Linked DNA regions of Homo sapiens. The protein of the gene in region 2 interacts with the protein of the main gene of each other region in a pairwise test. Each region holds a gene or a part of one and is shown on either strand. Other genes may lie near its edges.

What was found.
Region 1: the proteins of RNF112 (region 2) and DBH interact in binary tests that used the Homo sapiens proteins (3 or more experiments, as listed by UniProt).
Region 3: the proteins of RNF112 (region 2) and PEX26 interact in binary tests that used the Homo sapiens proteins (3 or more experiments, as listed by UniProt).
Region 4: the proteins of RNF112 (region 2) and PHYH interact in binary tests that used the Homo sapiens proteins (3 or more experiments, as listed by UniProt).

What each region holds. Positions count from the first base shown.
Region 1 is NC_000009.12:133,653,330-133,659,829, reverse strand, and holds the end of DBH (dopamine beta-hydroxylase precursor), read right to left. Parts: intron 5,244-6,500; exon of another isoform or gene 3,308-5,243; coding exon 3,180-3,307; intron 2,761-3,179; coding exon 2,601-2,760; exon of another isoform or gene 2,422-2,600; intron 1,515-2,421; coding exon 1,383-1,514; 3' UTR 501-1,382; downstream 1-500. UniProt on the Homo sapiens protein: Catalyzes the hydroxylation of dopamine to noradrenaline (also known as norepinephrine), and is thus vital for regulation of these neurotransmitters.
Region 2 is NC_000017.11:19,407,263-19,414,233, forward strand, and holds the start of RNF112 (RING finger protein 112), read left to right. Parts: upstream 1-3,969; 5' UTR 3,970-4,146; coding exon 4,147-4,200; intron 4,201-4,208; exon of another isoform or gene 4,209-4,237; intron 4,238-4,367; coding exon 4,368-4,408; intron 4,409-5,235; coding exon 5,236-5,521; intron 5,522-5,675; coding exon 5,676-5,882; intron 5,883-6,017; coding exon 6,018-6,149; intron 6,150-6,314; coding exon 6,315-6,419; intron 6,420-6,832; coding exon 6,833-6,883; intron 6,884-6,971. UniProt on the Homo sapiens protein: E3 ubiquitin-protein ligase that plays an important role in neuronal differentiation, including neurogenesis and gliogenesis, during brain development.
Region 3 is NC_000022.11:18,101,983-18,105,922, reverse strand, and holds the end of PEX26 (peroxisome assembly protein 26), read right to left. Parts: 3' UTR 527-3,940; downstream 1-526. UniProt on the Homo sapiens protein: Peroxisomal docking factor that anchors PEX1 and PEX6 to peroxisome membranes. PEX26 is therefore required for the formation of the PEX1-PEX6 AAA ATPase complex, a complex that mediates the extraction of the PEX5 receptor from peroxisomal membrane.
Region 4 is NC_000010.11:13,297,037-13,304,400, forward strand, and holds the start of PHYH (phytanoyl-CoA dioxygenase, peroxisomal isoform a precursor), read right to left. Parts: upstream 3,029-7,364; 5' UTR 3,007-3,028; coding exon 2,932-3,006; intron 2,728-2,931; exon of another isoform or gene 2,384-2,727; intron 1,210-2,383; coding exon 1,151-1,209; intron 1-1,150. UniProt on the Homo sapiens protein: Catalyzes the 2-hydroxylation of not only racemic phytanoyl-CoA and the isomers of 3-methylhexadecanoyl-CoA, but also a variety of other mono-branched 3-methylacyl-CoA esters (with a chain length of at least seven carbon atoms) and straight-chain acyl-CoA esters (with a chain length longer than four carbon atoms).

The DNA.
Region 1 (6,500 bases), on a different chromosome or scaffold from region 2:
CACCTAGGCTGTAAAGATGACAGAGGGCCGGAGTGGCTCTCCAGGCTGGGGCCTGGCATTTCACAGCGCTAGCGCCGTGACTTATGGACCACAAGAAGCTGTGATTTATACAACGTGAGGCAGAGCTCCTGGGCTCGTGACTTCCCTTCTGTGATGAAGTGAAGTGCCTTGCAGAAGCAGCAGCCGCTTAGCTGATGCGAGGGGACTCCGAGGCCCATCCATCTCCCTCTCTCCCCATGAGGCTGGGCAGCGTTTTGCTGAAGTGGCTGAACACAAGTGCATCTGTTACTGTCTCCAGAAACCATCAAAGAGCTGAACTTGTCCCTGAGAGGCAGCTCAGAGGGCAGGAAGGGGAGACCCACCCAGGCCAGCTGAGGCAGCTTCAGGACGCTCAGGGGGAAGCACTTGGTACCACGCCTGGCACAGGGAGGAGGCTCAGGAGCAAGCTTCTCTCTCCTGGAGCGACGGCCCGGAGTGCAAACATACCCACCTCCAGTGGGTGCCAGCCCAAGTGTGAGCTTTATTGGCTCATTAGCCCGCACGGCATCAGCCTGGTTTTACAGATGAGAAAAGTGAGGGTCAGGAATGTGAAATGGCCCGCCCAAGGCACACTCCCTAAGTGGCAGAACCACGCGGAAAGCACAGCCCTGACTCCACCCCGGTCTGTTCAGCGCTGGCCCCACCGGCAGAGAAGCAAGCTGGTGCTAATAATTCCACCCCACGTGGAACCGGCGCCCAGAAGCCCCGCTGGATCTTTGCCGCCTCGTCTTTTGGTGATAGTTGTTGTCAGGGCTTCCCTTTAGGTGGGCGAAAATATCTGTTTACTCAGGAATGGAGCAATTTCCCAGGCGAGTCTCTAACTAGCTAAATGCCTGGTCCTGCCTCCGTCGCAGGGAAGCCGCCCACTGTGAAACACGAGCCACTCAGCAGGGAAATGTTTAAGCGGCACCCGCACCCGCTGCACACCGGGAGCAGCGGGGCGGGGGCGGGGGCGTTCCCGGTGATTCCACACCCCGGCCCAGCATGGTGCCTGTCCCAGAAGCCAGGCCACACCCAGTGAGGCGGAACAGGGCTGGCGGAGGGCTGGACCCTGGACCACTGTGCAGGCTGTCCCTGCACTGAGTCAGCCGGGTTTAAATGGACGAGGTCGTGGTCCACTCGGTCCAGGGTAGGTCAACAGGGCACCCACACCCTCTCAGCCATGCAGGGGACCCTGGGGGAAGAAGGCTGGATTGGACCGTGGTCTCAGGCAGGGGCGTGGTCTGGCCCCTTCATCCTGGGCGTGCAGGGCTGTTCCATGGGGATCGTCGCAGAGTAGAGTGCACAGTGCCGGTGTGAGCCCACAGGGACAGCATGGAGGAGGGGGAGGAGTAGGTCCCCCCTCAGCCTTTGCCCCCACCAATGCTGACAACGGTGGGGCCAGCAGGGCTTCGGCCCTGGCTGGTGGGGCACTGTGGGGTGGGCTCTTCCAGTGTGGAGATGACCTTGGGCAGGGGCTGCAGGTTCCATTCACCCTGCAAGGAAGGGGGCAGGAGGTAAACTGAGGCTGGAGGGGCAAGATGGGTGGCTGCTTCCCCAGCCACTTCCCAGCCACCTCTTGGATTCTTGCCCTCAAACTCAGCTTGTCTCAAACTGAACTCACTCTGCTCCCCCAAGTTGCTTTTTGGGGGTCCTCACCTCAGTAAATGCCCCCTCCCCTGGCTTCCCATTCACCTAGTCAGGAACCTGGGAGTCATCCAGGCCTCTCCCCGCCTCTGTCCCCACCCAATTTAATCATTCACCCTAGTGTAGCAACCAGAGCCCCTGGCTGCAGGCTCTGATATTTTTTAGCTATCTCTTCCCCTCAAGGCTACACCAAATGCCAAGTTTTCAACCCCATCAGACGTCCACCCCACACTATTCTCAGCAAGCCAGTATTAGCCCTTCCTTCCCTTGGTGCTGAGGATGTTTGACTTAGCAGTTAATCTGGCTCCCAAATGCTTCTGGGAAGGATCTTCCTGGATCTCCAGGCTGCGGCACCTTACGCGACTAACTCTGCATAGGCCCTGGCCTCCTGACCACAGCCCAGTGGGCCCAGGATAAATTAGATGCCTTCGAATACCAGTGGGTCTCAGATAAGGAGGAAAAAACCAGCTCGCAGCTTCAGACTGGTTCGTTTCTTACCTTCCCCTCCCCTGGTGCTTTATTTTTAGGCAGGTTAGTGCGCCCTGCTCACACCACCTGCATTTGGCATTCGGTACAGTGTGGAGGTGTCACCAGAGAGGGTGCCTGCCCTCCCTTCCTTGCCTCGTTATTGGTTCTCTCTCTCTCCCTCTCTCTCTCTCTCTCTCTCCTCTCTCTCTCCTCTCTCCCTCTCCCTCTCTCCCTCTCCCTCTCTCCTCTCTCTCCTCTCTCTCCTCTCTCTCCTCTCTCTCCTCTCTCCTCTCTCTCTGCTGGCTGGCTGGCTGTCTAGGCCTATGTGTCACCACCTGGCACTTGCTCTCATTGTCTTGTGCGAGTGCTTTTGCCAGCAGTTTGGAGTGCAGACCCATCACCCCTCACTGGGGCCCCCCATGAGGCCTGCCTGACTGCATGCCCCACCCGGGCCCATGGCAGCGCACCTGGAAGCGGACGGCTGAGGACTTGTTGCAGTGCATGGAGATGGGCGCGAAGCTGTACAGGGCCTTCAGTACGTCGCGGTTGAAGGAGTTCCAGGGAACAGAGGTGAACTGCTGAGACACGGACGCCTGAGGGCAGGTGCAGACATCCTCGTTGTTGAACCTGGTGGGGACAAGGAACAGCCAGGCTGGGGAGCAGCTGACGGGCAGGGAGCCCAGTGGGCACCAGCAACACCTCCCTGCAACTCGAGTCCTGTCCCTGGGGCAACCGTCCTGCCACCTCCTCCCCAGCCCCGCTGCCTCCGCCAGGCCACCCCAGATGCTGCCTTCACCGGCAACGGCCTCACCTCTCCTGTCACCTTGGCGGGTGGGTAATGGCTGCTGCAGGCTGGGTTGAGGAGGCTCTGAAGCCAAATCCAGACTCAGCAGGAAACGAGTGAGGGGAGGGGTGAGTGATGCCGCCACAGGTCTCTGCTCCTAGAACTTAGCCTGGACTCCTCCAATCTGCCCAGCCGCCTAACAGGCCCGAGGTTCTGTGTCGGGGTTCCCTGGGGGCAGGGAGCTTGTGCAGGGAGCCCTCACCTGTTGATGAGGTGGAAGTACTTCTGCAGGAAGCCGGCGTCCACAGCGCTCTTGCAGAGCTCCAGCTGCGTCTGGGGGTAGTAGTGCACGTAGTTGACACACATCTCCTCCAGGATCCCGAAGCCCCCCTGCAAGTTGGAGGAGACCCGTCAGCCCCGGGCCATGCCACGCAGACGCTGCCATCCAGCAGCTTTCGCCGCACCCACGTGTACACTGCGTCCACTCGTCTGTTCACTGCACCGTGCCAGGCATGCTCTGGGGAACCGAGTCCCTGCCCTCAAGGAATTGCCACCATTGGCAGGAGAGACAGGCAGTGAGTGAGTGAGTCAACCAGGAAATTCGTATCAGGTACTGATGATGCTGTGAGGAAAAATGAAACGGGACAAGCGGATGGGGTGTTATTGTGCCCATTTTATGGGTACAGAAACTGAGTCTCAGAGCAGGCAAGGGGATGCCCCGTGGTGGCCACAGCATCGGTGGCACAGCCTGAGTGCACCCAGCGTCCCGGCCATTGTCTGGAAGCTGTCCCCATGACCTCCAGCGAGAGCCTGGAGCCAAGGACTGCAAGGGAGGCCCTTTCCACTGCAGCCCCGCACCGTCCACCAGTCATTTCTCCAACGTGGCTCTGAGGGGAGCAGGGACTCTATAAGACAGGACCGTGACTAGAGGCCGCGACAACCTCCAGCCTCTCACGGCAACCCTACGGCCTGCCATCGCATGGGAGGGGCAGGGCAGGCACCCTCTGAGTCCCCACTGCCAGCTTTAAGCCCCTCGCTGGGTTGCTGCTCTTGGAGCTGGTGACCGTGGAGCCTCAGCCATAGGAGGAAGAACAGCAGCAGCTTGGAGGAGCTGGGGCTGGAGAGAGCAAAGCTCCCCCGGCAGCAGCTCAGATCCCAGCAGGTCAGGGGCCGGGACATGACGCCCTGGCCACCCTTGCCCCTCCAGGCTCCCCGCTGTTTGTGAAGCTGCTGTGGGCCTGGGGATTTCATCTGGCTGGTGGGGAAGAAAGGCAATCTTTACTCTATGGCAGAACAAAGGGACTGGGCAAAGCTTGGCGTGGCACTTACACCAGCTGCCGCCCCCTCCTCCCGTGCAGACAAAGAGCATGGGACAGTTCTGCCCAGAGACGAAACCTGGCACCTGTTGGCCAGGACGCGTTTTTGCCAGCATTGTTCTCTGGGCCGGATTCCTCCTTTCCCAGCTTTTCTCATCCATCCCGCCCCCGTCAGATCGGGACGATTGCCCTCCTGTGTGAGTTCCTGTCCCTCCCCACCCTCTGCCACCACAGACATCAAAAGGGAACTGAGTCCGACCCTGTGTAGAATCTGTTCTCCTCTTTCACCTGGGGAAGGAAATCGAATTTCAAAGGCCACTGTGTCTTGGATCAGCAGGCGAGGGCTTGTCAGAGTGTGAGAAGCTCAGGTCCACCTGGGGAGCTGCCCTCCCCTTTGATCCCACCTGGTGCTGTGATGTGGCCACTGCCAAGAGGACGACATGGGCCAGGGAAGCCACAGAACTGCCCACGGGGACGCTGGCACCGAGGGCCTCAACCTGCAGAACGGCCATCTGAGATGTCCGCGGTGCTCACCAGGCCTGGCAGCCCCGAACGCCCTGGGACGTGGCGTCAGTTCCGCCGCCGTGAAGCCAGATTGGGCAGGGAATATGCAGTCTCCTCGCTGGATGCCCGGCAAGACCCTCCCATCCCTGGCCCCGGGGCCGCGCCTGCAGAATGGGGCTGATGGTGGGGACTTGCCTGGGGTGCTCCACCTGCAGAGCCCTCTGTTTGCGAGCCCACTCAGTCACTGCACAGGTGCTTAGCCGAGAGGCGGCACAGTCGGGGTTGGCACCTGCACCCATACCAGCCCTGCCTCCTGTTCGCTGTGTGGCCTGAGTGGCTGGACCTCACTGTATCTCCTGGTGGGATTGCTCAGAGGTCTCAGCAAGGCTTGGTGTGGTTAGGATGAGTTATTAGAGCAGTGCTGAGCTGTGGCAAGCACCCGACATCAGCCACTGCTGTGATATACTGAGCACCTCCTCTAGAGAGAATAAAGGACTGACAAAGCTGTCCTGTCTCCACCCTGAGTTTGTGATCAGGAACCTAGGACACTTGTCACCTGAAATCCAAGGGAGACAGGAAGGGTGGGGTAACAGCTGTGAGGCACAAGACCCTGGGTCAAATCCCAGCTCAGCCATCTATCAGCTGTGTGACTTTGGTCAAGTGCCTGCCCTCTCTGAGCCTTTATGTCTCACCTGTGAAAATACAAACACTGGCTGGGTGCTATGGCTCATGCCTGTAATCCCAGCATGAGGGATTACATGAGGAGTTTGAGACCAGCCTGGCCAACATGGTGAAAATCCATCTCTACTAAAAATACAAAAATTAGCCAGGCGTGGTGGTGGGTGCCTGTAGTCCCAGCTATTCAGGAGGCTGAGGCAGGAGAATCGGTTGAACTCGGGAGGTGGAGGTTGCAGCAAGCTGAGAACACACAGCCTGGGTGACAGAGCGAGACTCCGTCTCAAAAAAAAATAAAATATAAAATAAAATAAAATAAACCACTGGCAGTCTGGGCTCAGTAAACATCAGGTGAATCCACATTGGATTAAAACACAAAGAATAGGGCTGTGACATGGACCTGAGTTCCTGGCGCTGAGGGATGTCAGGGTAGCTGTAACCCAGGTCTGCTCCACTTGAGCCACACAATTCACAGGATAATTATTGGAGACCACCATGGTTACCGAAGCAGCTGGCACGGATCCACTGGCAAGGTGGCCCATTTGCCAGGACAGCCCTGGCTTGTGCCTGGGACCCAGGTAATTGTGAACAGCATCCCCTTTGGCTCCCGGAAGCAGCCCCGCTGCGTGATGCATCACGTGGCTGCCCGTGTCCTGGTGCTGCCTGCATACCCAGCCTTGAAAATAGATCTCTCCAGTGCAGATTCTCCTTGAACTGTCTGCAGTCCAGCCAAAATGCATCCTCAGCTGACGCTCATCCTGCCTGACCCCCACCCATGTCTCCACCCTCTCCTCCTCTCCTTTCCATCCTGAGAATGTTCTTGGTCCTCTGGGCCTTCCCGCACGCAGCCCCTGCACAGAGCCTTCCTTCACCTCCTCCCCTCTCCCCTGGGCTCCATGTGACAGCCACATTTCTGACAAGGCCCTCCCAGGTCCCCGCACCTCTGCCTCCTCAACCTGGTTTTTAAAGTTTTGTTTTGTAATTTTGCTTGTTGTTAGCAGCAGGTGCTCCAGGCCTGTCTCCCTGGTGCACCTTGAGCTCCACGGGGCAAAGGTCAACCTCTTGTCCTACAGCTTCTCCCCACACCA
Region 2 (6,971 bases):
ACCCTGACTCCTCAGAACCTAGCACTGTGCCCAGCACTTAGTAGGTGCTCAGTAAACATTTGTTGAATCAGTGCACTCATGACTTGAATCTGACTTTACAGATGATAACTCGAGCTGGGTTTACCAGCTAACATCATGTAAGGGGTACTGGGACATTAAACTAAGTGGGTGTTACTTTTGATTTTGAAATTTTCTTTTTGTGGTTTGGAGAGTCTCATTTTTCCATTAGGTTTCAAACATTCTCATAGACCGTAGACTCAAGAGACTCATGGAGCATAATGGATAAAGCGGGGCTGCCCATAGACATGGACCCAGGACCACCACACCTGGCCTCCCTGGGCCAGGGGTTCCCCTTGGGGCCCTAGATAGCATCAGAGGCCTCTGGCTGCAAAGGAGCAGGGCCCATCCTTTATCCCATCCTTTATCCAGGAGCAGGCCTGGTGTTCCTCCCGTCTCCTATCCACCTGGTCGGCCTGTACCGTGCCTTGGGGAATGCCCTCTTTTAGGTGCCCGGGTATGATCCCAAGTGGATCTGTATTTCCACTTGTGGCCTTGACTTCCCCAGCAGCACCCTCAGCCTCCCCGCTTGCCCCTCTAGTCTGTTGTCCATACAGCAGCCAGAGTGGGAGGGGCCAGCTTCCCAGGTATGCATCCAGTGCAGCCACTCAAGGCGAGAGCTCAGAAGGGCTGTGTGCTTGGGCTTCAGTGCTCTGGTCACCATCTTGAAACAATCATTTTAGCATTGAATTTGTGCTTTGTGAGTGAAGTCTGATGGGAAAATGGCGCCTTCACTGGGAATTCGGAAGCTGGTTTGTGTGTGTCCCATGTCCCACTGCCTCCCCAGCACAGGCTCTTGGCTGCCCACTCCCAGGCTCCCAGTGTCCCCACCTCTGCCCCACCATGGCTGCCCCCCTTCATCTGGAGGCCTGAATGCAGGCTCAAGGAGGACTGGGGACTGCTGGATTGGCCCCTGGCATCTTAGGGTGTGACAGAGTGGTGGCTCTCCCCTCCCTGGGCTGAAACTTAGCATAGGCTTCTCCCCGACCCCCAATCCAGGTATTGAGCGTGTCCTAAAATGACTGTGGCAATCTGGAGGGGCTGCCTGTTGGCCATGTGTGGAGGCAATGTGCCATTAGAAGAGGCAATGGACTTTCTTGCCTCTGGTGGGGGCTTTGCAGTTACATTTTTCACCAAATCCACAAATTGTATAGCTAGCCTGGCCAGGCACCATGGCTTATGCCTGTAATCCTAGGACTTTGGGAGGCCGAGATAAGCAGATCACTTTGAGCTCAGGAGTTTAAGAACAGCCTGGGCAACATGATGAAACCCCGTCTCTACAAAAAAATACAAAAAGTATCTGGGCATGGTGGTGTGCACCTGGGGTCCCAGCTACTGGAGAGGCTGAGTCTGGAGAATTGCTTGAACCCAGGAGGCAGAGGTTGCAGTGAGCTGAGATCACACCACTGTACTCCAGCCTGGGTGACAGAGTAAAACCCTATCTCAACAACAACAACAACAACAACAAAATTGGCCAGGCGTGGTGGCTGACACCTGTAATCCCAGCACTTTGGGAGGCCAAGGCAGGCAGATCACCTGAGGTCGGGAGTTCAAGACCAGCCTAACTAACATGGAGAAACCCCGTCTCTACTAAAAATTCAAAAATTAGCCAGATGTCATGGCACATGCCTCTAATCCCAGCTACTCAGGAGGCTGAGGCAGGAGAATCGCGTGAACCTGGGAGGCGGAGGTTGCAGTGAGCCGAGATCATGCCATTGCACTCCAGCCTGAGCAAGAGCGAAACTCCATCTCAAATAATAATAATAATAACAATAATTAATAAATAAAATTATATAGCCAGCCCTAAGAGTGAGGCTTCTACCATACATGTTTGCCCTGCGGGATCCCTCCTGAGATACTGACTGGTGAAGTCCCTATCCCCTCCTTTGGCCCCTGAGGGCCTGCATGACCCAGGCCTGCTCTGCCCTTCACCTTGGTGCACCCATCTTTGCATCAAATATTCCTGCCAGGCCAGCCGGACCTCCTTTGTTCCCCAGAATGGGTTCTGTGTCCCCTCTCCTCTGGGCCCTGTACCTGTGGTTTGCCCTGCCTTGACAACCTTTTTCTACCTCCTTGCTTATCAGGACAGCCTGACACCCCTCCTCACCCTCCCCGCATCCAGGTTCTCACCCAGATCATAGCAATGCCTTTTAATTGTCCAGTTGGGATCTTGGGGAGGATGGAGCTTTGTCTCTCTTGTTTCCAGCTGTACTGCAGTGTGAGACACAGTACCTGGTGCTCAGTAAGTATCATTAAGTGAAGACTGATTGTCCCATCTGCTTCCTCACATCTTTGCCTGGTGATGAGCAAATGGAAGCTCAGAGAGGGCAGTGACTCACCAGCATTTCATGCTGGGATGGAGGCAGGTTTAGAGCTTGAATCTGAGTCCAGCGCCCACGCTTTCTCTCCTGCAAGGATGAAAGGCTACAGGGGTTGAGAAAACCCTCCCTTCTGCCCTGAAGGCAGAGCTGTGGCACGGCTCAGGCTTGCTTCCTCATCCCCTGAGTGTGAGGCTTTGCTGCCAACACACAGGGGCTTGTCCCACCTGGGGCAGGAGGAGGCAGAGTCTATGGCACTGCTTCTCTGAATCTGATTGATTCAGCCCCACAATCTCAGGCCCTCCAGACACCAAAATGAACAAGATCCAGCCCCAGCTTCAGGGGTGTCTCCACCTGCTGAAGGTGGTCTCTGCTGAACTTTTCTAGGTTCTGAATCCCACCTCACCCCAACCCTTCTGCATCCTAGCTCATAGGATGTACGAATGACTCCCGTGCCTGGACTAGTGGCTTTACATAGGTAATGGTGGCTCCTCAGAGCACAGAGAGGTGCAGTGGAGTCCCAGAGCCCCTGAGCCGAGAATCAAGCCCAGATCTGCCTGGCTCTGAAGCCTGGGCTGCGCCAAGCCTATCACATATCCCAGCCCTCAACTGTCCAAGAACAAGACCGCACCCAGTTGGGAGGGGTGAGGAAAGGAGGCTCTAGGGAGGCCACAGCACCTGCACTGGGCCTAAGAGGGTGTCCCAGGAGGGATGAGAAGGAGCAGAGCAGCCAAGCCAGGGTGCAGAGGCAGGGAAGAGTGGGGCGAGAGAAGGGTGGAAGGAAGGTTCAGCCCAGTCCGCAGGCCGGAGAGTTTGGATTTTGATCTGATGGTAGTAGGGAGACACAAAAGGTGTTTGCGCAGTGTGAGGTCATCTGTGCTTGGGGAGCCTATGCTGGCTGTGCACTGGGGAGTGGAAGGGAGGCAAGGAGCCCAGTCAAGAGGCCATTAGAAGGTCCAGAGGTGGCTCATAGTTTTGATAGATTTCATCCTGCTCAAGTTTGAGGCAGAGTGAAAGCTATTGGGAGGGAAATACACCAGAGGACACGGAGGGCCCATGAGTGCTGAAGAAGGCTGCAGCTGGGTTGGGCGTCGATGACATAAACCTGAGAGAGAGCAGGAGGATGTGCAGGGCCATGTGAAGTAGGGTCTGCATTTGGGGGCTCTGTACATAGTAGGTACTCAGTAACTGTTCATTGGATGAATGGATGAATAACTCCTTGTCTCTGGGTCAGCTCTGGTCTTACCCTCTCCTGTTTCTCACACCTCTTCTCTTTGCCCACCCTGTCCTGTGGCCCTGGGGAGACCTCAGCTGGCCCAGTAGAGGCAGTGCTGGCCCATGGTTCTGCCGGAGGCGCCTCCATGTTTGCGGGTGCACCGCACGCCTTCTCCCTCTCTGTCCCCCTCCCCCTCCCTGTCCTTATCTTTCCCTTCTGTCTCCATGGCGACTCACCACCTCGGCTTGCCTGCATCCCAGCCTCTGCCAGGGATTCTGAGCCGGGCTCCATCCCTCCCTCCTCGGAGCCCTGCTACCCGCAGCCGTGTCTCCTCCCCCTGGGGTGAGTCCAGCAGCAGCCTCCTCTTTCCTGACTGTCACATTTCTTTTCCAGCTCTGACCGGGAGTCAGCTCCTCGGGGATACCATCCCCCGACCTCACCTTCTACCTACCGCAGCCTGCTAGCCTTTCCGGGAGAAAAGGCATCCTTACCTCTGGTTGAAGGTCTCGGGGCCTCCCCCTCTGCATCCGGACCCTCTCCCCATCCCAGCCTCCCATGCCAAGGCCCGCCTTGTCAGTCACTTCCTTTTGTCATCGGCTTGGCAAACGGGCAAGTCTTCAGTCCTAAGATCGGGAAGGAGAGTGGGGTGGGAAGGGCCCTCCTTGGGCTGGGGGATGGGCCGGGGGTGGGGAGGATGAGGGGTCCCTGGAAATCCAGGGTGAAGATAGAAGTCTGGATTATGTTCTAAATCTTTTTTTTTTTTTTTTTTCTCCAAGGAGAGAAAACAGAGCTTCATGGGAAACAGCGGCAACAGTTGGTAAGTAGCAGGGCCTTCCAGGCTGGGATGGGTGCAGTGAGGCCAGGCAGGTCAGTTGAAATGGCCGGTCCTGGAACACAGAGCCCGGCAGCCCAGCCGGGAGGGCTGTCCGCCTGAGGCTGGATCCGCCAGGCTGTGGAGGGAGGGACAGGAAGAAGCAGGTGGGTGCTGCAGGGAGGCAGATGCCAGCTCAGAGCAGAGAGCGGAAGGAATCTTCTAAGATCCAGAGCCATCTGCCCAACTGCAGCACAGGCTGATGGCTTCTCCTCACTGTCCCTGTAGCATGGGGTTGTGGAGGGTATCATCCCTGGGGGCCTGGCTGAAGTCAGCACCTCATGGAGGGAGCCCCGCTGTAGAACGCCGGGAGAGGCTCTTCCCAAGCATTTGCACCAGGCACTGTGCAGACAGCTGCACACGCCTCCTCTCGGATGGCCACCCCAACGGCCCCATGAGGGGTATTGCTATCCTCTCCATTGGGACAGTTAGGAAATTGAGGCCCAGAGAGGGGAAGGAACTTGCTTGCATTTGCATGGCTGGGATGTGGTGGAGTCCATTCCACTCAGATTTTCTCCCTCTCAGACTCTCTCACCATTGCTCTGCTGCCCCCACTCTGAGGCCCCCAGGTCCTAGGACACATGTCAGTGAGGAACGGGCAGAGCTTGGCCTCTCTGGGAGCAGCTCCGCCTGTCCATGGAGGCACTGATGGAAATTGGGTTGGCACAAAGGGACCTCCACTCCCAAGCCATCAGTCTTCCACCACAACCCTGGCCGGTACCCCCTGCCCCCAATAGACATCCTGCTTTTCAATGGCCTGTTTTGCCCCACAGGTCCCATACACCTTTCCCCAAGTTGGAGCTAGGCCTGGGGCCCCAGCCCATGGCGCCCCGGGAGCTCCCTACCTGCTCCATCTGCCTGGAGAGGTTGCGCGACCCCATCTCGCTGGACTGTGGCCACGACTTCTGCATACGGTGCTTCAGCACACACCGTCTCCCGGGCTGTGAGCCGCCCTGCTGTCCTGAGTGCCGGAAGATATGCAAGCAGAAGAGGGGCCTCCGGAGCCTGGGCGAGAAGATGAAGCTCCTGCCGCAGCGGCCGCTGCCCCCTGCACTGCAGGTCTGGGGACTGGGCCTAATCAGTCAGACCCAAGAGGAGGGGGTGGCTTTGGCCCTATTCTAGAACATCAGGACACAGAGCTCCAGGCTGAACACATTCCAGGGTCAGGAGCTGGTCCTGGATGCTCAGGGGCCCCTCTCTTCTCCTGGCCCAGGAGACGTGTCCTGTGAGGGCGGAGCCGCTGCTGCTGGTTCGCATCAATGCCTCTGGGGGCCTCATCCTTAGGATGGGGGCCATCAACCGCTGCCTGAAGCACCCTCTGGCCAGGGACACCCCAGTCTGCCTCCTCGCTGTCCTGGGGGAGCAGCACTCAGGGAAGTCCTTCCTCCTCAACCATTTGCTTCAGGGCTTGCCGGGCCTGGTGAGGGCGGGGCGGGGCAGGAGGGAGGCGGGGAGCAAGGATGGGGGTTCCTGCCTGGGGGAAGCTGGGTCTGGTATTCCGGTCTGTGGGGACAAGGAACCGACCAACTGATGCTCTCCCTTCTCTCCCCTGCAGGAGTCTGGTGAGGGCGGCCGGCCAAGAGGAGGAGAGGCATCCCTGCAGGGCTGCAGGTGGGGCGCCAATGGCCTCGCCAGGGGCATATGGATGTGGAGCCACCCCTTCTTGCTGGGGAAAGAAGGGAAGAAGGTGAGGGGGGAAGTGGCAGAAGGAGGTCAGGGATGGGAAGGGGAATCAAGAAGGGCGTCTCTGGGGTGAGGATAGAAGATGGGGATGGGACGGGGCAGGGTTGGGAAGAATGTGGGAGAACAAGGCAGGCCTGGCCCCTTGGGTCTTTCCCTACCCCCTGCATAGGTGGCGGTGTTCCTGGTGGACACAGGGGATGCCATGAGCCCTGAGCTGAGCAGGGAAACAAGGATCAAGCTCTGTGCTCTCACCACGATGCTGAGCTCCTACCAGGTGATGGGGGGCGCTGATGTTGGCATCCCCACCCCACACACCCTTCTCCAGCTCAGCTTCCTCAAGGCCAGAGCATCTCACAGGCTTTGGTGTCTGGGGTCCTGATAGGTTCTGGGGCTGCCTTAGAAGGGGGAAGGTGCTCCTAGTTGGTGAAGGTGGGAACGTGGGTTATTCCTAAAAGTGGGCTGATGGTCCCAGGGGCAGCTGAAGACCTGATGGATCACATTACCCTCCAGGCTTGTCTCCGGCCTTGAGGCCAGCCCAGCCCTGCAGCCTTCGAGGCCCCCATACTGGCCTCTCCCATACTCTGAGGCCCACAGGCTGCCTGCGAGCTCCCTACTCACCAGGGCCTTCCCCAGTGAAGTCACCCGGCCTCTGTAATCTCTCATACATGTTGTTCTCTCTGATTCCAGATCCTCAGCACCTCCCAGGAGCTGAAGGATACAGACCTGGACTATCTGGAGGTAAAGAGACCTCTGATGTTGGGGCATCCCCCACCCCCACCCTCCCCACTAGGGCTGGACCCAAAGGAACTAGGTGCCCTCCTGGTCT
Region 3 (3,940 bases), on a different chromosome or scaffold from region 2:
TCAGGCTTCAGACAGACTGGAACCACATCTTCAGCTCTTCTGGGTCTCCAGCATAACCACTGCAGGTCCTGGGTTTCCCAGCCCCTATAATTGCATGAGCCAATTCCTTATAACTCTCAAGATACCACCTATTGGTTCTGTTTCTCTGGAGAACCCTAGTACAGTCCCCTTTTTGTAGATGAGAAACTGAAGTTAAGCCTAGGCTGTTTATGAAAAAACAACCACCCATATGATTTAGGCTTTTTAAAGAAATTATCCACATCTACTGCATTCCAGTTACTATGTGTGAGTGAAGTTCTTCTTGTATGAATTTTAATGCTGTGGGGCCATATAACCAAATATAATTACAGTTATGGCCTAAATAGTTGAGCCACATTCATTAGAGCAGGAGGTAAGATAATTTCTATCAATCACCCAGGAAAAGACTCTTGGCGATATTCATTATCTGTTCAATATTCCCCAACACTGAGCACTTTCTATATGCCAAACACTGTGCTAATGGCTTTTATTCCTCACAACAAACCTCTGAAGTTAAATTTTTATTATCCTCATTTTACAAATGAAGAATCAGAAACATAGAAACATTAACTCTCATTCCTGATCACATAACTGGTAAGAGCTAGAGCTGGGCTATGCTTCAGAGAGTCTGGCTCCAGAGCAGAGCTCAACTGGATCTGGAAGGGCAAACCTTTCATAGAGAGGCTTGTCCTTGTTCTCTTAGGTTAGACTTCAGAGTTCCAATATCCAGGATGCTGCTCCAGGATGGTGGGTGTTACAGATGGAGGTCATGATGTTGAGGGAGGCTGGGAGCCCAGAGGATGAGACACAAGAAAGATCTCTTCATTTCCAGGCACCCCATTGCTGGGGTGAGCCCATGAAGTCCAGAGAGCAAACGATATCTTACCATTAGATTATCTAGATTCAGGTACTTGTCATATGTATTTAACTTTGGTTAGCCCCAAGTACCTTACATACATTCACCCATGTGTCTCAGATGCTGCAGGGGATTAAGGGAAGTTGAGGGTGAACCATTTTGGCCACTGGATCACAAACAAATTGGCTCGCCTTTAAGGTTTACATGGCTGCAGCAGCCGCAATCAAGAGATCACCAAAGAGGAGGTGAATCATGGGACAAATTCCCCTGGGAGGGGTGGAGCTTTAAACCAACATCAGGCAGATGCAAAGAACTCAGCAGAAACAGGAGGCAGTGAGAACAGGAGGCAGTGAGAACAAGAGGCAGTGAGCACTGGGAGCGGGAGTCAGTGACAGACTGTGCAGAGAACACTGAGGCTGGGAACTCAGGAAAACTCACCTCCTGTAAACAGGAGGAAAGGCCAGCCTGTGGCCTCGTGACATCCAAGGCTCTGTCACAGATGGGTAACCACCTTCCTCCGCTACCAGCTCCTAAAAGAACACCTAAAGAGGCGGGTGCGATGGCTCATGCCTGTAATCCCAACGCTTTGGAAGGCTGAGGCAGGTGGACCACCTGAGGTTGGGAGTTCGAGACCAGCCAGACCAACATGGAGAAACCCCGTCTCTACTAAAAATACAAAAATTAGCCAGGCGTGGTGGTGCATGCCTGTAATCCCAGCTACTCAGGAGGCTAAGGCAGGAGAATCGCTTGAACCTGGGAGGTGGAAGTTGTGGTGAGCCGAGATCGCGCCATTGCACTCCAGCATGGGCGACAGAGCGAAAAAAAGAAAAAAAAGAGCACCTAAAGGTCTGTGTGGGATAGACTAGGAAAGATGAAGCCGTCGGTCATCCCCTCCTGCTCTTGGTATTGTGTAGATGATTAACTGTTCCCCTTTCTGGGCATTTTCCTCCTAACCAACACTGAAACAACTGGTTGAATAGTCTCATTTTTTCCAATCACTTCACATATTGCTATGAGTATTGCAAAGTACCCAATCTTTCTGGACCACGTCCTGGCAGTATGTTGGAAGAGCAGAAAAACTGATCTCTATCAATGTTGTAGATCCACTTTCAAAAACCAGCCCAAGAGAAAAACCCAGAAAGAAAACAACTACTATCGTCTTAACTGTTCTACTCAGCCCTTGGTGATTTCACAGCACTTTCATATGCAATCTGTTTACAGCTATGTTATTCACAATAGCAAAAAGTTGGTGGTGGTGCATGTGGGTGTTGACCGGGCTGGGCCAAGAAGCCTCCTCCGGGCAGGCTGCCAGGCTCTCACTGTGGCTGTGGCTCTGTATGGGACAGAGACGGGGCTGAGCTGGCCGGGCTGTGGGCAGGGTGGAGGGCCACCAGCCAAAGGACAGTTGGAGGAATCGAGCTTCATGCTGTCCTTCTCTTCTGCCTCTGATACAGAATTTGATGTTGTGGTTGGATATATAGTACACATTATCATGGATGACATGTTCCGGTTATTATAGAGAAATTTTGTGGACAAGTATTACCAGGAGTTTGAAGACATGGAAGAAAATCAACTCACCTACATGCCTGCTTTTTGATAAATAATATTTGTACATATTATTGAAGTAGATGTGACATTTCATTACATGCATAGAATGTGTAGTGATCAACTCAGGGTATCCAGGATACCCATGACCTTGAGTATTTCTCATTTCTATGTGTTGAGAACATTTCAAATCCTTTATTCCGTCTATTTTGAAACACCCAATACAGTGTTAACAATGGTCACCCTATTCTGCTATCAAGCATTAGAACTCACTCCTTCTATCTATGTTTGTGTCCATCAAGCCACCTCTTCATCCCACATACACACCCTGCCCAGCCTCTAGTAATTGTCATTCTACTCTCTACCTCCATGAGATTAACTTTTACATGCCTTTTTTTTTTTTTTTTTTTTGAGATGCAGTCGCACACTGTCGCCCAGGCTGGAGTGCAATAGCACGATCGCACGATCTCGGCTCACTGCCACCTCTGCCTCCTGGGTTCAAGCAATTCTCCTGCCTCAGCCTCCTGAGTATCTGGGATTACAGGCACACGCCACCATGCCCAGCTAATTTTTTGTATTTTTAGTAGAGATGGGGTTTCACCGTGTTGGCCAGGCTGGTCTCGAACTCCTGACCTCGTGATTCGCCCGCCTCAGCCTCCTAAAGTACTGCGATTACAGGTGTGAGCCACTGCGCCCGGCTACATGCCTATTTTTAATAAATGTATTTACTTGACAGAAAAGTATCCTGAAGGACACCTACTGGAGCGGATTGCTGGATTTAGCACATGGCCTTCACAATATTAGGCATGATAAAGATGAAGGGGCTGGTGCCCTTCATCAGACAGAATTTGATGCTGTGGTTGGATATGTAGCAGACATTACCATGGATGACATGTTCTGGTTATTATAGAGAAATTCTGTGTACAAGTACTACCAGGAGTACTTGGTGCCATAGGCCGGGGACTAGACCTAAGCGATAGTTTAGCGGTGACTTTGTTGAGCAAATCATCTTCTATGCCAGCTTCCCCGAACAAGCTGTGGCACTAGATCCCACCTCCAGGCAAGGAAGAGGATCATCCTGGATGTCACCAGCCCACTGGCTTGGAGAGGCTGCAGCTATTGAGGATAGAACAATACATCTTGGAAAGACTGACTGTTCTGCAACTCATCATTCATGTTAAGTATTAAGGGTCAAAAACAAATGGCTTGATGTGTTTCTCCTGAAACACCTTCTTGTGTTTAGTAACCCTAGTACTCCTCCCATCTCTCAGGTGCTTTTGAATCAGACTGCTGTGGGGCAAACCCATGCCCAGCATTCCACCTGAGGCCCTTCTGCCAGCATACATTCAGTGTGTCAACAGTGTGGAATAACCCACTATCATGAGTCCTCTTTGTCCCAGCAGCTTTGGCATGAACTTTTTTTTCTTTTAAATGAAGAGACGCACATTTTAGTGATTTTCCTTGTGAAATTGCAAAGACTAGAAGAAAGTTAGACACTGACATCTCCATACCTGAATCTCT
Region 4 (7,364 bases), on a different chromosome or scaffold from region 2:
ATGTAAAACCAAGACACTATATGAAAAAAAGAAAAGCCTGCAAAGAAATACACCAAAGCAATTTTTAACAGTGATTGCCTTTAGAAATGGAATTAGGGATGATTTTTTAAAATTCCTTCTATTTCTCTGATGTTTCTGTAATGAATACATATGATTTTTCAGATGGGAAACAAATTCAATAAATTGTATATTTTTAACTGTCCAGTTGATGCATTCCAAGAAGGTAAAGTAACAAAATCCAAATAAATGTACAGCATACCCATAAACTCAAATCACCCAACCTATTCCTTAAGATCGGAATTGTGGTTGTATGAGAATATTTAGGAAGGTCAAGATCTTCCCCTTTAAAGGTGATTTAAGATAAACCAAAGATGCTAGCTAATATGTCCATATAACCAAATACAAGCTAATTTGTTTTGTTTTGTTTTGTTTTTTGAGATGGAGTCTGGCTCTATCACCCAGGCTGGAGTTCAGTGGCGTGATCTCAGCTCACTGCAACCTTGACTTCCAAGGTTCAAGCGATTCTCCCACTTCAGCCTCCTGAGTAGCTGGGATTATAGGTGCACACCACCATGCCCAGCTAATTTTTGTATTTTTTCATTTTGTAGAGGTGGGGTTTGTAGAGATGTTGGCCAGGCTGGTCTCGAACTCCTGACCTCAAGTGATCCACCTGCCTTGGCCTCCCAAAGTGCTGGGATTACAGGCATGAGCCACGGTGCCCGGCCACAAGTTAATTTAAATGAGATGTTTAACTGAATTTTTAAAAGTCAGATTATAAGGCTGGTGTGATGGCTCAGGCTGCAATCCCAGCACTTTGGGAGGCCAAGGCAGGAGGATTGCTTTAGCCCAGGAGTTCAACACCAGCCTGGGCAACATAGGAAGGGCCCGTCTCTATTAAAAATAAATAAATAAATGTCGGATTATGTATTTTCTGGTATTTTTCCTTCTTTCTGAATCTTAAAATACATACAGAAAATTAGTCGGTCTCCAAAATTTTCCACAAGTGCACTAATTAGAATAAGTCCTGGAAACAGAGGATTTGTATAATAAAATTCTAATCAGGTAACATATTATGTGGTATATCTTCATTACCACTCAAGAAACTTTTATATACATAATATATTTCAAAATCAAAACTCAAACTACTTACTGGAATTGTTGAGGATGGAAACTGGCAGAGGAAATAGTCCCTGAAGTGGGATGAGCTACCTAGGATGTGAATTAAGGCAAATAAAGTAAAATATAGAAGGCCAGGCACGGTGGCTCATGCCTGTAATTCCAGCACTTTGGGAGGCTGAGGCAGGAGGATTACTTGAGCTCAGGAGTTCGAGACCAGCCTGGCCAACATGGTGAAACCCCATCTCTACTAAAAATACAAATTAGGCCGGGGGCGGTGGCTCACGTTTGTAATCCTAGCACTTTGGGAGGCCGAGGCGGATGGATCACCTGAGGTCGGGATTTCGAGACCAGCCTGACCAATATGGTGAAACCCCATCTCTACTAAAAATACAAAAATTAGCCAGGCGTGGTGGCGTTCATTTGTAATCCCAGCTACTGGAGAGGCTAAGACAGGAGAATTGCTTGAACCTGGGAGGTGGAGATTGCAGTGAGCTGAGATCAGGCCACTGCATTCCAGCCTGGGCAACAGAGAGAGACTCCATCTCAGAAAAAAAACTACCACCACTACTACTACTACTACTACTACTACTACTACTACTACTACTACTGCTACTACTACTACTACTAATAATAATAATACAAATTACACTTGGGAGGCTGAGGCAGGGGAATGGCTTGAACCTGGGAGGCGGAGGTTGCAGTGGGCCGACATTGCAGAGTGCGGCACTGCACTCCAGCCTGACCACAGAGCAAGACTCCGTCTCAAAAATAATAATAATAATAATAATAATAATAATAATAATAATAATAACAACAATAACAACAACAACATAAATTCGCCTGGCATCGTGGCGCAACCCTGTAGTCCCAACTACTTAGGAGGCTGAGGTGGAAGGATCTCTTGAGCCCAGGAGTGAGCCGAGATCGTACCACTACTGCACTCCAGCCTGGGTGACAGAGTGAGGCCCTGTTTCAAAAAAAAAAAAAAACCAAAAAAGCAAAACCCTAGAAATTCCTTTTAAAGATCTCCTTTCTATCCGGTAACTGCAGAGAGTTGACATAGAATTGCATTGTTTCTTTAGCTTAATCGGTTACTTTCGGAATGTCACTCTCATCAATTAACATGTTATCCTTTCTTTCTCTCTGTTTCTCTCTTTTGGAACGCACTGGCCATCACGGCTCACTGTAACCCTGGACTCCTGGCCTTGGCCCCCAGAAGAGCCGAGACAACAGGCAAGGCGTGTGCCGCCGCGCCAGTCCTCACCCGCTGTCCTTCCCCAAATAGTGTCTTTATATAACTCAGTGGCAATGCCGTAGTCCAGCAGGGAGGCCGCCCTGGGCAGCGCCTGCCTGGCCAGCTCCTGCCCGGGAGGGCACCGTCCTCTCCCCTCCGGAGAGGTCCCGGTCACTGCCTGCCTGGGCCGGTTCCAGGCAGCCCTGCGCGCCTGTGCACCGTGCGCCTGTGATTGGACATCTCTGGGTCTCTGGACAGCTGCCGGGGTCACGCGCCGCCGGTGAAACGACGTCTCCACAAAGAGAGGAGCAGAGGCCCCCAGGGATCCCGGAGGGCAGGGCAACGCGGCAATTGCCCCGACCCCAGGGCGGCCGCGCGTGTCCTCGGGGGACGCAGCCTCTTCCCCGCTCCCCGGCTCCTGGAAGAGACGCGACCCAGGCGGGGACGCGGCGCTGAGCGAGGAGGCGCTGGGGCTGCGAAGCGTGCGACCCCGAGGCCTCCACCCGGACCAGGGCCACCACTCAGGCGGCGGCGCCGGCGCCGGATCCAGCCCGAGCCCCGCGCAGCCCAAAGGATACGACAGCCCCGGCCGAGGGGCGGCCGAGGTGGCCCAGAACAATCTGCAGACGGGCGGCGGCGCGAAGCTGCTCCATGGCTGCGGCGCGGGGAACCCCCACCCCTCCCGGCCTCTGCCCCATTTAGCCCAGCGGGCGGCTCCGCCTCCAGGCGCCGCCCCGGACTGGACGTAAGCGGGATTCCGGGCGGTGCCAGCTCGCGGGCCGGGCTGCTGGGGAGCCCTAGTCCGCTAGAGTCCGCGCGCCGGGCAACCGCCCGGGGCTGAAGTCCTCCCCACACCATGATCCTTCCGTCCTTTATTTTCTTTCTTTTTAAAAAGAAACAAGATCTTGCTCTGTCGCCCAGGCTGGAGTGCAGTGCGCGATCATAGCTCACTGCAGCCTTGAACTCTTGGGCTAATTTTTATTTTTTGTAGAGATGGGGTCTCGCTACGTTGCCCAGGTGGGTCTCAAACTCCCCCCGCCTCCCGTCTCGACCTCCCAAAGTGCTGGGACTACAGGCGTGAGTCATTACCCCTGCCCCGCACCCTGTTTCTGTTCCATCACCAGGACCCTCCCTGCCGCACCGAAGCTCGGGGGCCCAGTGACCAGGCCGAGGTCACACAGTGACAAGTGGCTGGGCTGGGACCTCACTCACTCTCCTAACGTCATGGCTTCCATCTGTTTAACCCTACGTGACTGCTCCTTCCACTGACAGCTGAAAGAATAAAATCTCCGATTTAAACAAAAAGTTTGCCGGGCGCGGTGGCTCACGCCTGTAATCCCAGCACTTTGGGAGGCCAAGGCAGGCGGATCACGGGGTCAGGAGTTCGAGACCAGCCTGGCCAACTTGGTGAAAACCCGTCTCTACTAAAGATACAAAAATTAGCTGAGTGTTGTGGCGCACGCCTGTAATCCCAGCTACTGGGGAGGCTGAGGCAAGAGAATCACTTGCAACCGGGAGGCGGAGGATGCAGTCAGCGAGATGGCGCCACTGCATTCCAGCCTGGGTGACAGGGCAAGACTCCGTCTCTAAACAAACAAACAAACAAACAAACAGGTTTTTAGCCGGGTGCGGTGGCTCACGCCCGTAACTCCAACACTTTGGGAGGCCGAGGCAGGAGGATCGCTTGAGCTCAGGATCGCTATAGATCGAAAGCAGCCTGGGTAACATAGTGAGAACACCTGATCTACAAAAAAATTAGCCGGGCGTCGTGGCGGGCGCCTGTAGTCCCAGCTACTCAGGAGGCTGAGGCAGGAGAACGGTGTAAACCCAGGAGGCGGACCTTGCAGTGAGCGAGATGGCGCCACCGCACTCCAGCCTGGGCGACAGAGCAAGACTCCGTCTCAAAAAAAATAAAAAATAAATCAATAAATTAAATAAATAAAAATTCCAGACATTGTATGAGGAAGCATTGCAAAACTTTCTGTTCTGTTAGCTGTTGCCTGTAGCCCCCAGTCATGTTCCCCACGCTTGCTCGATCTCTCACTAAACTTTCACGTAGACCCTTAGAGTTACAAGCCCTTAAAAGGGCCAAGAATTTCTTTTTCAGGGACCTCGGTTGCAAGTCTGCCGAAGTTCCCGGCCTAATACAGCCCTTCTTTAATCCGGTGTCTGAGTTTTGTCTGCGGCTCGTCCTGCTGCAGGAGGATCACCTGAGCCCGGGAGTTTGAAGTTGCAGTGAGCCCAGATCGTGCCTCTGCACTCCAGCCTGGGCGACAGAGTGAGGCCATGTCCAAAAAACACAAAAACAAAAAACAAACAAAACTCCAAAACATCAATGAAGTTTTGAAAATAAAAATAAAAAAATAAAAATGCTAAGATGCATCCCTAAAAGTCATATGTGCCATTCAAAAGGGGTATTTCATTTAGTGGGACTCCAGCCCAAAATATTAGAAAGTTCGGTTGGTCATAAAAAAAAAAAAAGTGAATAAAATAAATGACCTCCAGAAAAGTCTGATGCACACAGGCCAGTATGGTGTAAATTTCTTAGATAACTCCAGCATCTCTTTGTAAGATTTATTTTCCATTCCATAACTACGGATATTGACATAGCATCTCATTGTTTCTTTAGTTTCATTTTTTCATTGATTTTTTGTTCTTTTTTAGCTTCGAGTTACTTCCAGAACGTCGCAGCACACGTTATCACTTCCTGCATGACGTCTTTATAGAATTTGGTGACAATGTCGCAGTCCAGGAGGGAGGCCCGCAGCCAGCATCACCAGCCCCTTCCTGTTTGCACAGGCAGGGAGGAGAACGGCAGCTCCCAGGCTTCCACTGGGGAGTCCCTCCGGCTTTCTCCGGGATTCCGCCCGCCCCAGGGTCTCAGACCAACAGAAGGACCCGGGATCCCTCAGCAGCTCCGGACCTCATCTGCCCCACTTCGGCATCCCGCGCGGGAATATGACCATGTAGGAGTAACCCGGGGCTCTCAAGGACTCTACGGTTTGTCACGGTTTGAACGCAAGCGCAGGGCCTGGGGCGGGTGCAGGTGGAGGGTCGGCCTCTTTCTGCCCTTGGGAACGCCCCTTTCTGGATGTGGACCGGCGAGGCGGTCTCTCCTTTCTGCCCTCGCCTGGTGAAATGTGGGCACTGCTGCCAGGAGAAAAAAAACTGAAGCTGTGAATTCAGTTCATCACCCTTCCCTTGTTTATTAAAAAATCGGACCTTGGCCGGGCGCGGTGGCTCACGCCTGTAATCCCAGCACTTTGGGAGGCCGAGGCAGGCAGATTAGGAGGTCAGGAGATCGAGACCATCTTGGTTAACACGGTGAAGCCCGGTCTCTACTAAAAATACAAAAAAGTTAGCAGGGTGGTGGCGGTCGCCTGTTGTCCCAGCTGCTCGGGAGGCTGAGGCAGGAGAATGGCGTGAACCCGGGAGGCGGAGCTTGCAGTGAGCCGAGGTCGTGCCACTGCACTCCAGCCTGGGTGAAAAAATAAAAAAAAAAAAAGATCAGGACCTTTACCCGCGCTGACGGTGATTGGTTTTCATGACCAATAAAGAAATTCGAATGAGATGAAGCTACTTACACCTGTGTTTTTACTGTTCCTTTAAAATGCCCTAATTTCACAACCATGTGAAAATTCCTGCCATCTCTCCCCCAAGGCATTTATACAAGGATGTACTTAGATATTTAGATGTATTTAAATTTATGCTTTTCTTTTCTTTTTTTTTTTTTTTTGAGACGGAGTCTGACTCTGTTTCCCAGGCTGGAGTGCAGGGCGTGATCTCGGCTCACTGCGACCTCTGCCTTCCGGGTTCAAGAGATTCTCCTGACTCAGCCTCCTGAGTAGCTGGGATTACAGGCGCGCCATCAAGCTCAGCTAATTTTTTGTATTTTTAGTAGAGCCAGTTTCACCATTTTGGCCAGGCTGGTCTCGAACTCATGACCTCAAGTGATCCGCCCGCCTCAACCTCCCAAAGTGCTGGGATTACAGGCGTAAACCACCGCACCCGGCCCAAACTGATGCTTTTTACCGACAGATGAAGGAAATTCTTAAATGCTCACAATTGTTATCTGCCTTTTTAAAATTAGAGGGATGCTGGGTTTAACATTTTTCATTTAAGATCCCACGGAGAATTAACATAATAATTTCTCCGTAGGTAAAGAGGTAATTTGATGAATGTTACTAGTTTTCTTTCAAATAGCTATTTGGATTATTGGAAAATTCCCTAAGTAGGCATCTTTAATAATTATGTTATTAAAATAAAAATATTTTAGAACAATTGAAGCAGAACATTAATGGAATGTAAACATTATCACAAGAATGAAAAGTTCTTTCCCCTTTGGTATTAGGCATTTATTCATTTCTTATTAAAGTTGACCTTTTGAAGATTACTTCAAAATTAGCTTCCCCCCACTTCCAGTAATGTGCTTGGTTACTTACGTATTGAAAGTAACCTTGCAGACAAGTTTTGAAACACAATTTTCAAAATGATCTAAGGAATAGTTTTCCCCATATATATAAATTAAATGATTTGTTAAATAATAGCCATATTTGAACAGCTAAGTAAAATGTTTGAGTTTTAAAATCTTGGATTAAATTGTTCAAACTGGCTAGGGGAAGTGGGTCACGCCTGTAATCCCAGCACTTTGAGAGGCTGAGGCAGGTGGATCACCTGAGGTCAGGAGCTCCAGACCAGTCTGGCTAACATGTTAAAAACCCGTCTCTACTAAAAGTACCAAAAAAAAAAAAAAAAAAATTAGCTGGGCGTGGTGGCACATGCCTGTAATCCCAGCTACTCAGGAGGCCGGGGCAGGAGAATCGCTTGAACCCGGGAGGTGGAGGTTGCAGTGAGCCGAGATAGCGTCATTGCACTCCAGCTTGGGCAACACGAGTGAAACTCCATCTCAAACAAAGAAACAAACACAAAAACGAAAACCAGAAAACAAACAAACAAACAAAAACCCCAGAAAATTAGCTGAGCGTGGCACACCTGTAGTACCAGCCACTTG